2 separate regions of the Homo sapiens genome follow, and region 2 is reported to be linked to region 1. Evidence: microRNA targets listed by miRTarBase, many of them from high-throughput screens and not tested one by one. Region 1 holds a microRNA gene; the other region holds the end of a gene's coding sequence.

What was found. Region 1 holds the annotated microRNA hsa-miR-584-5p (UUAUGGUUUGCCUGGGACUGAG, at 1,839-1,860, shown strand). A microRNA usually pairs through its seed, bases 2 to 8, with sites in the 3' UTR of a target mRNA and lowers its output. Matches are read on the target gene's strand: a 7mer-m8 pairs with bases 2 to 8, a 7mer-A1 pairs with bases 2 to 7 and ends in A, and an 8mer does both.
Region 2: miRTarBase lists TMEM263 as a target of hsa-miR-584-5p. Seed matches in the 3' UTR shown: 7mer-m8 at 1,294-1,300.

The regions. Positions count from the first base shown.
Region 1 is chr5:149,060,166-149,064,232 of GRCh38, reverse strand. It overlaps MIR584 (microRNA 584), which reads left to right and starts at 1,824; the gene lies at 1,824-1,920. SH3TC2 (SH3 domain and tetratricopeptide repeats 2) reads left to right here and starts at 1,171. Exons shown (of 17, transcript NM_024577.4): 1 at 1,171-1,262. The coding sequence starts at 1,211. It overlaps SH3TC2-DT (SH3TC2 divergent transcript), which reads right to left and starts at 916. Exons shown (of 3, transcript NR_122044.1): 1 at 559-916. RefSeq lists a silencer at 913-1,207.
Region 2 is chr12:106,970,542-106,974,605 of GRCh38, forward strand. TMEM263 (transmembrane protein 263) reads left to right here. Exons shown (of 4, transcript NM_152261.4): 4 at 564-3,494. The coding sequence ends at 850. Among named protein-coding and RNA genes, the nearest start is that of MTERF2, 15 kb to the right of the region's middle.

The DNA of each region.
Region 1 (4,067 bases):
ATTGGGTGAGCAGTGCTCTTTGAGCTTGGTTGTTAGAGCAGTCATGCTTCCGTCCTACCTTGCTGGCATTCAGCCATATTTTCTCCATCTCCTTTGCAAGATCTCATGGGAGGTTTTCTGAAATTTAGCCACAGTGTCAACTGGATTCCCCTGCTCCACTGCCTATCTGAAACAGGAAAGAGGTTAGTCTTGTGGGACCAGTTTTGCTTGCATACCTGTAGACTTGCTGTATTTTTTCTTTTAGTTTTATTTTTAATTGACACATAATAATTCTACACATTTATGGGCTAGAATGTGATGTTTCAATATATCTATGTATTGTGTAATGAACAAATCAAGGTAATTATCATATCCATCATCTCAAACATCATTGTTTTTTTGTGGTGAGAACATTCAAAATCCTCTCTTCTATGTTGAAATATACAATACGTTATTAACTGTAGTCCCCCTACTGTGCAATAGAACACTAGAACTTACTCCTCCTATGTAACTCTAACCTTTTACCTATTGACCAACCTCTCCCCATCCTTTGATGTATTTGGTTCTCCATCCCCTCACCTGTAAAATGCTGGGCTTCATCAGGTGATCTCCTGGATTCTTTTCCTGCACACCAGCAGCTGGGGGTTTGCATGTTCCCCAGTGAGGAGCTGGCTCATTGATGCTGCTAGGTCCAAGTGAAATGCTGCACCCACAGCTCCAACTTTATCAGAGAGCCAAGGGAGGCCTTTGCAGAGAGAGACTGGGTGGAGATCACTGTAAAGGGGTGGCAGGCCAGTCAGTGTGGGCCAAGTCAGTCGGGGAGGGAGCAAGAAGAGCAGTCTTGATCTCTGGGATGTTCTCTGCCCTCCTCCCCAGCCCTGGCTGCCCTCACAAGAACCAAACTGTGTATCTCAATCCTAGAATGCGAGGAATGTGCTGCAGGCTGATAGGCATGAAGCGATCTGCTGAGAGGCAGGGAGGAGCCCTGTTCCCCAGGCCTGACAGTGCAGGAGCTGTGGGCCTGCAGGCTGGGCTGGGCTGCCCCTCCCACCCTCCCTGGGCCTCCTGCTGTAGCCGGGATATCAAAGGCTGCATTGTGCATTGAGCAGGCCTCGGTCCCTCGTGTGCCAGGGAGGAGGCGGGAGGAGGGACACCGTTGGGAGGCTGTCCCTTGCAGCACTCTTCTGGCCTGTGTTCCCAAGGGCCTCGGCCAGGGTAGGATGGTACACACATGGGTGGCTGCTTCTGCATCCCCAGGGAGCGGAGTCTGACCCGGGGCCCAGGTGAGTTTCCCAGGGGGCCCTTGGCCTGTGGCTTGGCCAAAGTGGATGGTCCAGTAGAGGCTCAGGGACCTGCTGGGTTGGAGAAACTTTTCTCCCAAAGATGGGGAGATGATTGTGCTTTCTGGCTGCCTCTCCTTCCTCCCTGGGTAAGTGTTTGTCATGCTGGCTCTGTAAAAAGGGAGCAAAGCCTGGAAGCATCTATTTTTTCCTGAAGAAAGAGCCTTTGAGTTTACTCTGTCAGGAGCTGAGCAGCACTGCTCCTGGCTGCCACTCCCAGGGTGTGACTAAGCCCTTCCTTCCTTTCTTCCCGAGATCCCCCCAGGACAGGAAGAAAGTTCAGGCAGTGAGTTCCTCTGTGGCCTATGGGTGGCCATAAACTTGGCCTTAGTCATTCAAGCCTATTTTTGTCAGGGTTGCTGTTACTGGAGAAAAACAGGCAGTTTCCTGCCTCCACCTATTACAGAGTGATTTGTGTGTGAGTGCATGTGTGAGTGTGTGCATCAAGTTGAGGCAATGGAGAGTTGTTGCTCTAAGAAATTGTCAACTCATGGGAGAGTGACTTAGGGTGACCAGCCATTATGGTTTGCCTGGGACTGAGGAATTTGCTGGGATATGTCAGTTCCAGGCCAACCAGGCTGGTTGGTCTCCCTGAAGCAACCTTCTTGCTTTTTTTCAGAGGAGAATCAAGGTAGGGCCCTGTGTTCTCTTGTGTGGTGTTTATCAGGATGAGTGGTGGCTTTGGGGAAATGTGGGGTTAGATTGGTGGGGGGAGGCTTGCTTGGGAGATAGGGGAACATTGCTCCAAGGAATCATTCCTAACCCTTGTTAGAACTCTGTGTCTTCCTGGAGCTCCACCATGGTTCCTGAGAGAAGGAGCTAAGGAGCATCCCCTAGCTGAGGGCTTTCTACTCTCTGACAGACAACTTTCTTCTTTAGTCTTATGACTTGGGCTTGTAGAAGGCACTTGAGGTCATTAAAGTGAACCCAAAACAACCATATTCTGCTTCCTCTGCTTGAAGTCTTGATCTAGGCACCTTGGCACCTACAGCAGGGAGTGTCCCCCCAAATGATGCCCTTGGCACAAAAGGCACGACTTTAGCTATGAACAATTTCGCTTCTCCAGATTTCTCAGATGTAAACACTTTTCAGTCCCTCCCCCTAAGTCCTATTGTCATTGTGCCCCATGAGAGTAGAAACAGCATGGAGGGAGACGTGCAGGACCACTGGTCGGAGATCGGGGTTCTAGATCTGACTTCCTCTAGCTCTAGTTATGCAGTTGTCATCTTGGCTACTCACTTGGTCTTTGAGGCCAAAGTGTCTGGATTTTATCTTGGTTCTTTTACTTGCCTCGACAACTTATTTAACTTCTCTGTGTTTCAGTTTCCTTATCTGTAGCTTTTATGACATGATTATGTCTTCTTCATAGAGCTGTGGTGGAGATTAAGTCTACATGTGAAATGGTGAAACAGTCTGGTGCACAGTTAGTTGAGCACAATAAAATTCACCATTGTTAATTCCATTTTGATGACCCCAGTATAACTCGCGCTCTCCCTGGGCCTCCATTTAATCATATATACAATTTTAGGGTTGTAAACTGCTGTGTAGAGGTGCCTCAGAGAGCTCTGCTCATGTTCCCTCATTCCTACCTAGAGCGGCTCTGCTTCTAGTTGACATCGTCCTTCAGCCAAAGATTTCCTGTAGAACAGAGTTACGCAGCTGAAAACAAACAAACAAACAAACAAAATATTGAAAAAGGTCAAAATCATAATAACACTATCATTCAATTACTTTATTCTTTCACCTTCTTTTTGCCATTGATTACTGGCTGGCACCCCGCATTCACCTTTTCACCAAGAGTTAGCCTGCTATGTATCTCCCTCGAGACTTTTCATGCCATTCCCCCATATTATTCCCTGTATGTGTCAGGGCCTTTCCCTAGCGAGGTTGATATTGGTGTTGTAGGTCCAAGTCCAGTCGATCTGGATATTCCCATTCCAGATTCCCCTATTTATCCTAGAGAAAAGGAACAAAGTATGAGACCCATCCTGGAGCAACTTAATAGTTGTGTGACCTTGGGCAAGTCCCTCATGTTTTTTGAACCTCAGTTTTCCTGGCTGTAAACTGTATCTAATGGTGGTACTTATCCCATGGAACTTTTGTGAGGATTAAATTTAATAATTCCTCTCATGGACTTAGCACAAGGTCTGGCTTTTGATAACCCTTCAGTAACTACAGGCTGTTTTATCGTTAGTTAATATGGGCCACTCCTACATCACTTCCTCCTAATTCCTTACTGGTCTGGAGAAGTCTGTACTTATGTTTCCTGGGGTGCTTCTGCCTTGTGTCTGTTTAAGTGAGAGTTAACAGCAGACACCAAAACAGTGAGTCCTCAGGGCTAATGGACACAGGAAAGGAGAAGGCTCTTGATAGCACTGAGCACTGGACAGCTGCCAGACTAGTTTGTGTGGAGTGACACAATAATGAACGTTGACTCTGACTACTCCAGGCACCTGCATTCTTACATGTGGACTCTGCCTGCAGCATCTGTTCCCTGGGATGGCTCTCAACTGCTCACAGAACTCCCCTAATCAGGGGGGACTGCACATGGTGAGAGGATAGGTTCTGATCAGTTGCTATCATCTCTGACTTCCCCACCCTATCTATGAGTTGTTTCTTGCCATTGCTTAATAAGCTACAGTTGCTCACTTTGGATCACAGAGAAAGCCATGTCAAAGTTTGTTGATCAAAAAACTTCTAGCACTTCACCCTTATTTTCAATGCCTGTTTGAAGAAATTTGGCAGATT
Region 2 (4,064 bases), not on the chromosome of region 1:
AACTGCTATAGACTCATGACAGAAAGTGAAAAGACAAATGATATTTTAATAATATTATGAAAATAGTTTTTACCTTGTAGACCCCCTGAAATGGTCTTCGGCATCTGTAGTGGTCCCAGACCATACCTTGAAAACTACTGCATTTTACGAAGAAGATTGTTTCGGTAATGACTGATTAAATCCTATCAAGGAAATGAAGGCCAAATGTAGTTATCTTTTTATTTTTTCATGTTCCTTTTAGGATGTAAAATAAAGGTTATTTGTTAACAAAACCGTAAACCAAGGAAACATTTAAAATAGGATTCTGTTTTACAAAAGTTGTCTAGTCTCTAAAGCATTTCTTCTCATAGATACTAAGACTTAGCATTGGACCAAGATATTGTAAAAACATGTACAACTATACCCTGAAGGAAGAGCTCTTCAGTGTCTTTGAATCAGTGTGGTTGGCCTTATCAAATCAACCTCCTGTTGTGAGGAAGTCTTAGGTTACTTAATGATGTGTACTGCTCTTTTAAAGACTTGTGACTTATATTTGATTGTCTCATGATATTTTCTCTCATTAGGTTCAATGAAAGATCACCCACAGCAGCAGCCAGGCATGTTGTCCCGTGTGACTGGGGGTATCTTCAGTGTTACAAAGGGAGCTGTTGGTGCCACCATTGGTGGTGTGGCTTGGATTGGTGGAAAGAGTCTGGAAGTGACCAAAACAGCTGTTACAACTGTGCCTTCCATGGGAATAGGGCTGGTGAAAGGGGGTGTCTCTGCTGTGGCTGGAGGTGTTACAGCTGTTGGGTCTGCTGTTGTAAACAAAGTGCCCTTAACAGGAAAGAAGAAAGACAAATCTGACTGAAATATAGAGATACACTTGCGCTCCACAGCACTGTAATGCCAGTGGCATTGAATTGCTAAATTATGGACTACAACCAAGTCAACTGTTTTGGACGTTTATCTTCTAAACTGCTGTGTTGAAAGTATTGATGACTGGCTTTCATCTAAAAAGAAGAGACCAATACGAGCACAGTATATGAAGGTTTCTCATACTTAAGTTCCAGGTTTTTATCTGGTAAAATGTTACACTTACTCGGTTGTAACTGAAGATATGGTATGTTTGAATATTTACTATAAGTCTTTCAGTTTGACTAAAAATGTGAAAGTTGAATTTAGTAGATGATCTTCACAGTTCCATATGTATAATGTGCCAGGTAACTCACCTGCCCCTTAAGAAGGGAACCTTGAATTACATAAGCCGTACCTTTGATGTGCCTAATAGTTTCAGATGTCTTAGTTTTTTATAACCATAGTTGATTAGGCCAAGAGGCATTCATTTCTTATTTAAGCTGGCAAAATTAGCAGGAATTAGAGAAGTTTAAAAAGATAAATGGTTTTATGATAATGTTAACCATCTTTTGTTAGTAAATATGCGTTCTATTATTTTAATCATTGATGCCTTACAAAAGAAAACATCTTTTCTAATACCCTGAATATGTGCTGTTCTTAGAATCATCTATGGATTCTTTTAAAGGTTGTTTGTGAAATTAGTTTTCCCTTTTTAGAATCTCAGGAGTAGTGGGGTAAAGACATTTCCTGCTGTCAGTGGATAAGACAGAGCTTGTTAACTGTTTTGGCAGTAGTTAAAATCAAATTGTACACTTCTCAGCCTGGGTTCATGCTTCATCATTAATACACCTCACAGTGCCTAAGGAACATTTACTTACTGGTCAGAAGGTATTTTGGAAGAGTTTCATATTAAGGAGGAACAAATAATAATTTTAAGTTCTTAAAAATTACCTAAAACACCCCAAATATAAAAAGAAGCCTTCACACCTATTCTGTCTTTAGGATGTCTTAAATTATTAGCAGTACTCCTTTTTTAAAAACACTGTAAAAGTAACCACAAATATGTGAGGACTTACTATTTTAAATGGAATGGAATGAGCTCCATAGATTAGTTTTGAATATAAAGTATATAAAAGTGCATCAGTGGTTTATATAGGCTTTAAAAACATGTTATCTTACAGTCCTTTAAAGCAGCCATAGAGTTTGTATCATTTTTCAAGCCAATTTCAGTCAGGGATTTGAATTGTTTGATTATGGATGATAAATGTGTCATATCTTATTAATATGTCTCATGTCTCGTTCCTTCTTAATATGATTTAGCTGGAATTCATTTTCTTTTCGTTTCATGTTTAATTTCATAAAACGTTTAACAATTGGCATATATACTTGGCATTCCTGTCCACCAAGGATTGTAATCCAAGCCTGGGAAAATCTTAAATTTCTTTTTACTTAAATCTGGAAATTTGTCTCCATTCTGCCACCTTTTTTTTTTTTTTTTTTTATAGTGGAGGGGAGGAAAGGGGGGTGATACCTTGCAGTAAGTAAGTCGAAATAGCATGCCTGAAAATTTGAAACAGACCATTCTAACACCCAAGGCTTGTTTATAAAATACTTGAGAATTACATTAATGTGGAATCAACAGATGCAGAAGAATATAACATAACTTTTAAAAGCTTTCATAAATACCAGCAGCAATTGTAAGCAAATCTACAAAGGTTCTTGAACCTTTCTATTATATACAAAACTGAAAAGTCATTAAGGAGTTCAACTAATCAGGAATTAAATGGTCATTTATTTCATGCAGTATGATTTAAGGTATTTCTTGAGATTCTGGTCAAATGTCATAATCAGCAAACGGGATTAAAAAAAAAACTCCAAAATCACTAAATAATTATCTAAATAATGGTATTGGAGAACTTGTTTCCTGCTATTTGGAAGAGATTGTTGCTTCATTGCTAGTTTGTATTTCTAACTTCTACAGTTATAGACTCCACTGTGCTTTGTGTCTGAATTTCTCAGTATAGACATTTTGTTTACTGTATGCTTGCATATTTATTTTCAACTTTGTTTGTCTTTAAAATTGCTTGAGGAAAAATGGTTGTAATTAATTTCTGCTACAGAAAAGCCACCTGGTACGTTTTGTCTCATCAGGATTGTTTTAAATTCTAAACTATAAGTTTGTTCAGAGGGGCTTTTGCAATGATAGCAGAAAACTGTACAAATGTACAGTTAGTTATAGAGGTTCTTGTTGAAATGAACTTACCATCTGATGATATGTATGTACAGCTGTGTACTTGAGTCTTTTTTAGTTTACTTAGAAAGACTAGCAGTTTGACCTGTTAAACAGGACTAGTTCAAGTCAAGAAACTAAGGTTGTTGTATACACCTGGAGGCATCTGTTATTCAGCTTATCCTTTGAGTGGGTATTTGGCACAATGAGGATAAACTTATGTGACCCACTTGAATGGCTGATCTAATAATGTTGACATTATGCATTCTGTACTTAGTGAAATGTCAGATGAAAATAACTGATGAATAATTTTTTTGTATTAAAGGGATGGGAAAAGAACACATGAATTTGTTAATAAAGCACTATGATCTGCAAACGATGGAATGTTTCATAAAGATCTAAAGAAATAAAGGAAACTTTAAAACAGGGTGATCTTACCATTTTTAGTTACTTTGCAGTTCAGAAAGTGCTGTAGCCAGTTTAAAATTTTTTTTATAGTAATGTACAAACATATCTTTGGATATGTATTTTGATGCTGACACAACCATGAAATACAAATATATTTTAAGCAACTCTAATAATAAAGATTAAGAGTGTAGATTTCTAGGTTTTACCCCAACTTGCCAAATCTCTGCAAGGTGGGGCCCAGGACTGCATTTTAACAACCTCTCTGGGTAATTCTTGAGTACAACAAGAGTACTTTCAAACAAAGTTTGAAAACTGATGGATTATAAAGCAGGGAGCACTTCTGTCTGTTCCAAGTAGCTGTGGAACCAACTGAGACATCTCACTGGAAAGAAATGACTGACTAAAAGGGGTGGGGAGGAGTGTAGAAAATTGATATTTACTGGGCATCTGCTTACCTGCCAGGTACTGGCCATACTTCTCATTTAATCAGCATGAGGGCCTTATGAAGGAAGTATCATTACTCTCTTACAAATACAGAACAGGCTAACTTTCAATGTTAGTTGAATTTTCCATATCACTTTTGAATTAG